Linked DNA regions of Homo sapiens. The protein of the gene in region 1 interacts with the protein of each later gene in a pairwise test. Each region holds a gene or a part of one and is shown in the gene's direction. Other genes may lie near its edges.

Evidence for each region. Proteins that work in one complex are often made in the same cells at the same time.
Region 2: the proteins of OBI1 (region 1) and RHOBTB3 interact in a two-hybrid assay, tested with the Homo sapiens proteins (one large-scale study listed by IntAct).

The regions. Positions count from the first base shown.
Region 1 is NC_000013.11:78,642,156-78,645,655, reverse strand, and holds part of OBI1 (ORC ubiquitin ligase 1), read left to right. Parts: intron 1-658; coding exon 659-794; intron 795-2,103; exon of another isoform or gene 2,104-2,630; intron 2,631-3,442; coding exon 3,443-3,500. UniProt on the Homo sapiens protein: E3 ubiquitin ligase essential for DNA replication origin activation during S phase.
Region 2 is NC_000005.10:95,790,336-95,793,598, forward strand, and holds part of RHOBTB3 (rho-related BTB domain-containing protein 3), read left to right. Parts: intron 1-2,723; coding exon 2,724-2,839; 3' UTR 2,840-3,263. UniProt on the Homo sapiens protein: Rab9-regulated ATPase required for endosome to Golgi transport. Involved in transport vesicle docking at the Golgi complex, possibly by participating in release M6PRBP1/TIP47 from vesicles to permit their efficient docking and fusion at the Golgi.

The DNA.
Region 1 (3,500 bases):
ATAAATGTAAGGTATTATTATTTGTGCTTGTTTAAATGGAGCCTGGAGTCAAAGATTTGTGTATTTGGTGTATCTCAGTAATTCTGTCTGCATTGTTTGCTGTTTAGATTATAAACTACTTGAGAGTGAAGCTCATGCCTTTTGGGTTGTTTTAGCTTTCATTACTGTTTGGTTTTGGGGAATTTCTAGTAAAGTATCAATACAATATTTAATAGTTGCTGTTATTCTGTAACAGTGGAATGAATTGAGAAAAGGATTCGGGCATCAGATGGATGATTGTGCTAAATGATATTTTCAAAAACCTAATCCTGCTGTTCTATAATGCTAAAATAGAAGAGTTTGAGCAAAATTGTCCCAGCCTTAGTGGAACAAAAAGCATTTTCTTTTTGGCATGAATTCTGTGGTTTAGGTACAAAATAAAGCATTTTATATGTCAAAAGCTTCAGTCTCCATGATCCAGTATCTCATCTAGTATCTCTGTTAAACATGTGTAAAAAGAAAAGTGACCAACAGAAGCAGTGTTTTTAAAAGCGCTAGATATCCCTTCTTAAACTCCTACTCTGCTATAATCTAGAGAAGCAGTTTGCTGTAAACTAAACCATTTGATCTTCTAATTATGACCGTTGTCCTGTACTAAAAGTGATTTCTTTTTTCAAAGGTACGTCAGCCTGTCATATGCATCAACAACCATGTATTTTGTTCGATTTGTATTGATTTGTGGTTGAAGAATAATAGCCAGTGTCCAGCTTGCAGAGTCCCCATCACTCCTGAAAATCCTTGCAAAGAAATTATAGGTAAGGGCCTGTTTTATATATGCATAGGAATAGGTTTGAAACAATCTCCAAATAATTTATATTTCGAGGAAGACTGAAATAGGCTATTTTCAGTGATGCTATTTGGCCAACATAATACTGAGTGGTTGAGTAATTTGTGTAATGTATATGTGGAGCAACTGGGGCACAAGGCACTGAGAGGTGCTAAGAGGAATAACCCTGAGAGCCTCACGGAACTTACATTTTCATAGCAACTGAACCAAAAGAAAAGCAGCAAGTGCTAAGGGCCCCAAAAAAGCCCAGAGAGTTCAGGCAAGAAACTTCAGCTAAGAACACCGAGAAGGGCTTCATAAAGTAGGTGGCCTTTAAGCTGGACATTTAAATTTAAGGATGGATAACATTTCAACGGTGAAAATTAAGGAGGGCATTTCCTGCAGGGAGAATAGCATGAACTAAAAAGTTTAGATACAGGAAAACCCAGAGCATGTTTTTAGAAATGATCAGTAGTCTACTTTGGGTCCGACTACTGAGATAAGACAAAAGGTAAATTGAGACTTTAGTGCAGAGAACCTTGAATGACAGCTAAATCAGGGACTTGCTCTAGGACTAAGAAGAAGGGTGAATTGGGCATGATGGTTTTGAGCAAGGGAGTGGTATGATCCAAAATGTGCTTTACAAATATTACTTGTGGTAATACATAGGTTGGACTATAGGAGTAGACAGGATGTGAGTAGGTCTGGTAGGAGGCTTTTGCCTAGGTGATAGAAAATGTAAGTTTGGATTAAGGGTGAAAACAAATTCTATGTCACATTAATATTGGTGGGGTGGGGGAGGAGTAAAGCTTGAACTAGAGGATCCTTGAAAAGGAGAACTTCTAAAGAGCCTTTTTAGAGTTTGGTTTTTATTCTACTCATATAAGTTATTTATTTTAGGTTGCAAAAATTAAAATGATTTCTACTTGTTTTTGCTATAGGAAAAATTGAAAGTGAATCTACAATTAGCCAAGTATAGAAAACATTTTTCAGAAAACTTAAGAAGTCATTGTAATAGTCCCAAGTTAGGGAAAATGGACTTAAATAAGATTTTTTTTTTTTGAGACAGAGTTTCGCTCTTGTTACCCAGGCTGGAGTGCAGTGGCGCGTTCTCGGCTCACCGCAACCTCTGCCTCCTGGGTTCAAGCGATTCTCCTCCCTCAGCCTCCTAAGTAGCTGGGATTATATGCATGCATCACCACGCCCGGCTAATTTTGTATTTTTATTAGAGACGGGGTTTCTCCATGTTGGTCAGGCTGGTCTCGAACTCCCGACCTCAGGTGATCTGCCCGCCTTGGCCTCCCAAAGTGCTGGGAATTACAGGCGTGAGCCACCGTGCCCAGCCAAGATTTTTACAAAGGAAATAGAAAGGAATATATATGCTACAGAGCAAAAGAAGAACTAGTAGGACTTAGGAAATAAGAGATCTGAAGGCGCAATCAGAGTTGGCTCTTGGTACCTGGGTGAAGTCTGGTAGAGGACTGGTTCTCTGCTGTGTTGCATGCTACGGGGTTAACCTCTATCTGTTTTTTTTTACCTGCTGAATTTCACCAAGGAGTCAAGTCTTTTCTTGCAGAATATGAGCTTTGATGATTTGAATATTTTCCCCCAGCTTTTCTTCTCATCCCATATCCTACCTTTATTCATTCATACCTAAGTGATATTTCATAAATTCTCTCAAGGAAAATAGTTCATCCATTTTTGCATTTGGATAGAACATCCTGAAAAAGAACACCTGTAAAATACCTTTGCTATTATTATAATGCTAAAAAATACAAAGAAGGTAACCAGAGCATCAGTGAAGAGCTCTCAGGAAGAATTCATTGTGAGTGCATTTGTAACAAGTCATGACATAGAGTTAATGCCATGACTTACAGTCCATTGTAACTAGCCTGTTAGAATCCGTGAAAAGACACATTAATCTATATACATAGGTATATAGCAGTAATACTTTTTTTTTTTTTGAGACGGAGTCTCGCTTTGTCGCCCAGGCTGGAGTGCAGTGGCGCAATCTCGGCTCACTGCAAGCTCCGCCTCCCGGGTTCATGCCATTCTCCTGCCTTAGCCTCCTGAGTAGCTGGGACTACAGGCGCCAGCCACCACGCCCGGCTAATTTTGTTTGTTTGCATTTTTAGTAGAGACAGGGTTTCACTGTAGCCAGGATGGTCTCTATCTCCTGGCCTCGTGATCCGCCCGCCTCGGCCTCCCAAAGTGCTGGGATTACAGGCGTGAGCCACTGCACCCAGCCAGTAATACATTTTTATATAATCTCTTGGTTAAATGTAAATGTAATAATTGGTTTTATTATTTAAATATAGTCTAGTTTTCAGAATTTGAAGTAGTCCAAATGTGATAATTACAGCCCTTTCCTCCACTGAGTTTGCTGTGATAAGATATGTAGATATGTAAATACAATATGATGTGTTACTGAAGGTATTTCTTATGGTGTTATTTGATATATTTTTTTTTCCTCAAGATTAGGGTAGAGAAAAGGCCTAGATGTAAGCCCCAAGTGTGTATGTAAGGGGAAGGGTAGATGTGAAGCTGGGAAGCTATATAAAACAATATGAAAAAGGATCATTTTCATTCTTCCCGAATCAGAATGAAAAATTAGGATTTTTTTTTTTTTCCCTACAGGAGGAACAAGTGAAAGTGAACCTATGCTAAGCCATACGGTCAGGAAGCATCTTCGGAA
Region 2 (3,263 bases), on another chromosome or scaffold:
GAATTGCACTTTGGTCCTGGAGCCAGTTTCATTATGTTACCTGAGGTCACTCTTATTTGTAAGAGAAGAATAAGATTATTTTCTACTTACTATCTTGTATAGATATATGGTATATATGGAGTACTATTACAACCTTGGGAGAAGGATGGTCTATAAATCCTTTTAGTTATGAATTTTCATTATATGGTATTACCCAATTACCTATAAAGTATGTTATGACACCTGGCATGGTGCAAAGCAGGACTTCCAGTGCGATGTGAGGTGGCAGGCTAAGGAGGAAACGATGTGTCGATGTTGCCTTCTGTTCCTTTGATGGGAATTAAAAGGGAATCATGAGAACTCTCATTCTGCAGTGCCTCTTCCTGTCCAGGGTCCTGCTATGAGGTGTCATCCTCTTGGGCAGAGGAAAAAAGCGCCTTTTGGATAAGGGAGAATTTAATTGTCTAAATCAATAGTTACTAACTGGCCATCTATGGTTTAGGTGTAGCCTGCCAACGTGTTTTATTGGGACCCCACAGTTAAAAATATATAGTACTGGTATTTAAAAATAACCATATTTTGGCTTCTTTTGAAAAATTGGAAGATCTGGCTACCCCAGGCCCATCATCCTAGTGGCAACATGTGGCTTGGCGCTGACGGCCCACCTAAAGGAGCATGCCCTCTCCAGAGGGTCGCAGTCACTTCTCTCCAGTGCTTTACACCTGGCCCACTGCACATGGTCACCTGAAGTTGGGAAAGTTTCTTGTCACGGTCACTCTACAGCTTCCTTATAGAACTGTCCATCTTCAGCTTGAAAAGTTCTCAAATTATTATTGGAATTCTACAACTTGTTTTCTGTTGACTGAGAATTTTTCATTTTTAGAGGTGTTTAGAAATCAAAAAGTGAGACTGGAAAAGATGTCATGTCAGTACAGGCACAGATACATCAGAACCCAGTTAAATAGGTCATTAAGTATTAGATTTTTATATACTGGACTCATGAACACAAACAGCGGTGCACAGGAATATGTTACCCTTGGCATTTATGGATTCATTATTCTCGCAGTTTAATTTAGCTCGATATTATGTGTTCTGTGTTATGGGGTTTTGTTTGTTTTGTTTTGCTGGCTGCCAGAGCTCATCTCTAATAACTTTTCTCTGGTTTTTAATATTTACTGAGGGAGTAGTCTCATGTCACCTTTGCTTCCTCTTGAAACTTAGAGCTGAGCAGCTAGTTTGTATGGTCCTGCAGGCTGAATCAAGACCCTGTTAATCTGACTTATAATAGATGAGGTTAAACAGTAGATGGAGAATCAAGTAATTCTCCTGCCTCATCCTCCTCAGTAGCTGGGATTATAGGCATGTGCCGCCACACCCAGCTAATTTTTCTTTTCTTTTCTTTTTTTTTTTTAGTAGAGACGGGGTTTTGCCATGTTGGCCAGGCTGGTGTCAAACTCCTGACCTCAAATAATCCGCCCGCCTCGGCCTCCCAAAGTGGTGGGATTACAGACATGAGCCATCGTGCCTGGCCTCCAGCAAGGTCTTTATGATCTATATCTTGAGTCGACCTCCTATCTCATTCTGTAACCTAGAATGCCTAACTGTCTGGGAATGCAGCCCAGTAGGTTTCAGCCTCATTGTCCCCAGCCCCTATTCAAGATGCAGTTGCTCTAGTTCAAATGCCTCTGACAGTTGTGCTTCACCAAACCTAGAGAATGAACAAAGCGAAGGACCTGGAGTTCAAGAATGGAGGGATCCAACTCCAAGGCAGGAAGCAGGTCCAGAAAGCAGGCAGGGCAGCAGCAACAGGGAAGAACAGCTTATCTGATGACTGGCTGGGTGGGAAGCACAACTGAGAGGACTTGAAGGACTTTGGAAGACTAAGTTAGCTACAAAGAAAACTAAGTATTATACCAAAAAAACTTATCCGGGCGTGGTGACAGGCGCCTGTAGTCCCAGCTACTCGGGAGGCTGAGGCAGGAGAATGGCGTGAACCCGGAAGGCAGAGCTTGCAGTGAGTCCAGATTGCGCCACTGCGCTCCAGCCTGGGCGACAGAGCAAGACTCCGTCTCAGAAAAAAAAAAAAAAGAAAAGAAAAGAAAAGAAAAGAAAAGAAAACTAAGTATTATAAATGGAAAAAAAAAATAAGTCCGTTATATCCAGGAAAAACAAAAGCTTTATTGGAAAAGAAAAGGAAGCCAGGCGTGGTGGCTCATGCCTGTAATCCTAGCACTTTGGGAGTCCAAGGCAGGCAGATCACGAGGTCAGGAGATCGAGACCATCCTGGCCAACAAGGTAAAACCCCGTCTCTACTAAAAATACAAAAAATTAGCTGGGCGTGGTGTCACACGCCTGTAGTCCCAACTACTCGGGAGGCTGAGGCAGGAGAATTGCTTGAACTGGGGAGGCAGAGGTTGCAGTGAGCTGAGATCACGCCACTGCACTCCAGCCTGGGCGACAGAATGAGACTCCATCTCAAAAAAAAAAAAAAAAGAAAAGGAAAATAATGAAATACTACTCGAAGTAGTGGACAAGATATATATAATTGTAAGTCACATAATAACTTAAATCCTGATACTAATTTAACCAAAATGGTAGTAAATTATTTGGGAAAACTTGTGGGAATGGTAGGAGATGTATCACAGAGCTGGATCTCATCTATTAAAGAGGAAATCAATAGCTGATATCTTAATTGATCCATAATAAAACATATTCGGTTAACAGTCTTTTTCTTAAAACTTCAGTGGAAGAACGCAGTTTTGTTGAAAAGCACAGATGGCCGTCGAATATGTACTTGAAGCAGCTTGCGGAATACAGGAAGTATATTCACTCCCGGAAATGTCGTTGCTTAGTAATGTAACCTGGAGCTTTTATACACTACATTTCTTTTTTATTATTATGAAGAATGGGATACCTCCAGGTTCCAGTAAAATTCTTCTGACCGAAACCAATGTGGGTGTTAGAAAAATTACCATATAGCTTAATATGTTTATTAGTTCTCTTTGGAAAAAAACTACCACTGTGGTCTTAAAAGGGAACAAAATATACCATAGGCTAAAACTAAGGCTTTCACTCTAGAATGCAAAGCTGTTTTGCAGCTGTTTTCCCTTAAAGATGTCCTGTTGCTTTAGTGATATTTAGACCCCTCTCAGTTAAGAAATGCTTAGATTAAAAAAAAAAAATTACGTAGGATTAATACAGAAATTTAATCATGTCTGATTAATTGCTCTATTAAAATAAGGGGCATTTAAAGACCCAGCATAACCATTTGTATAATGAGAAAT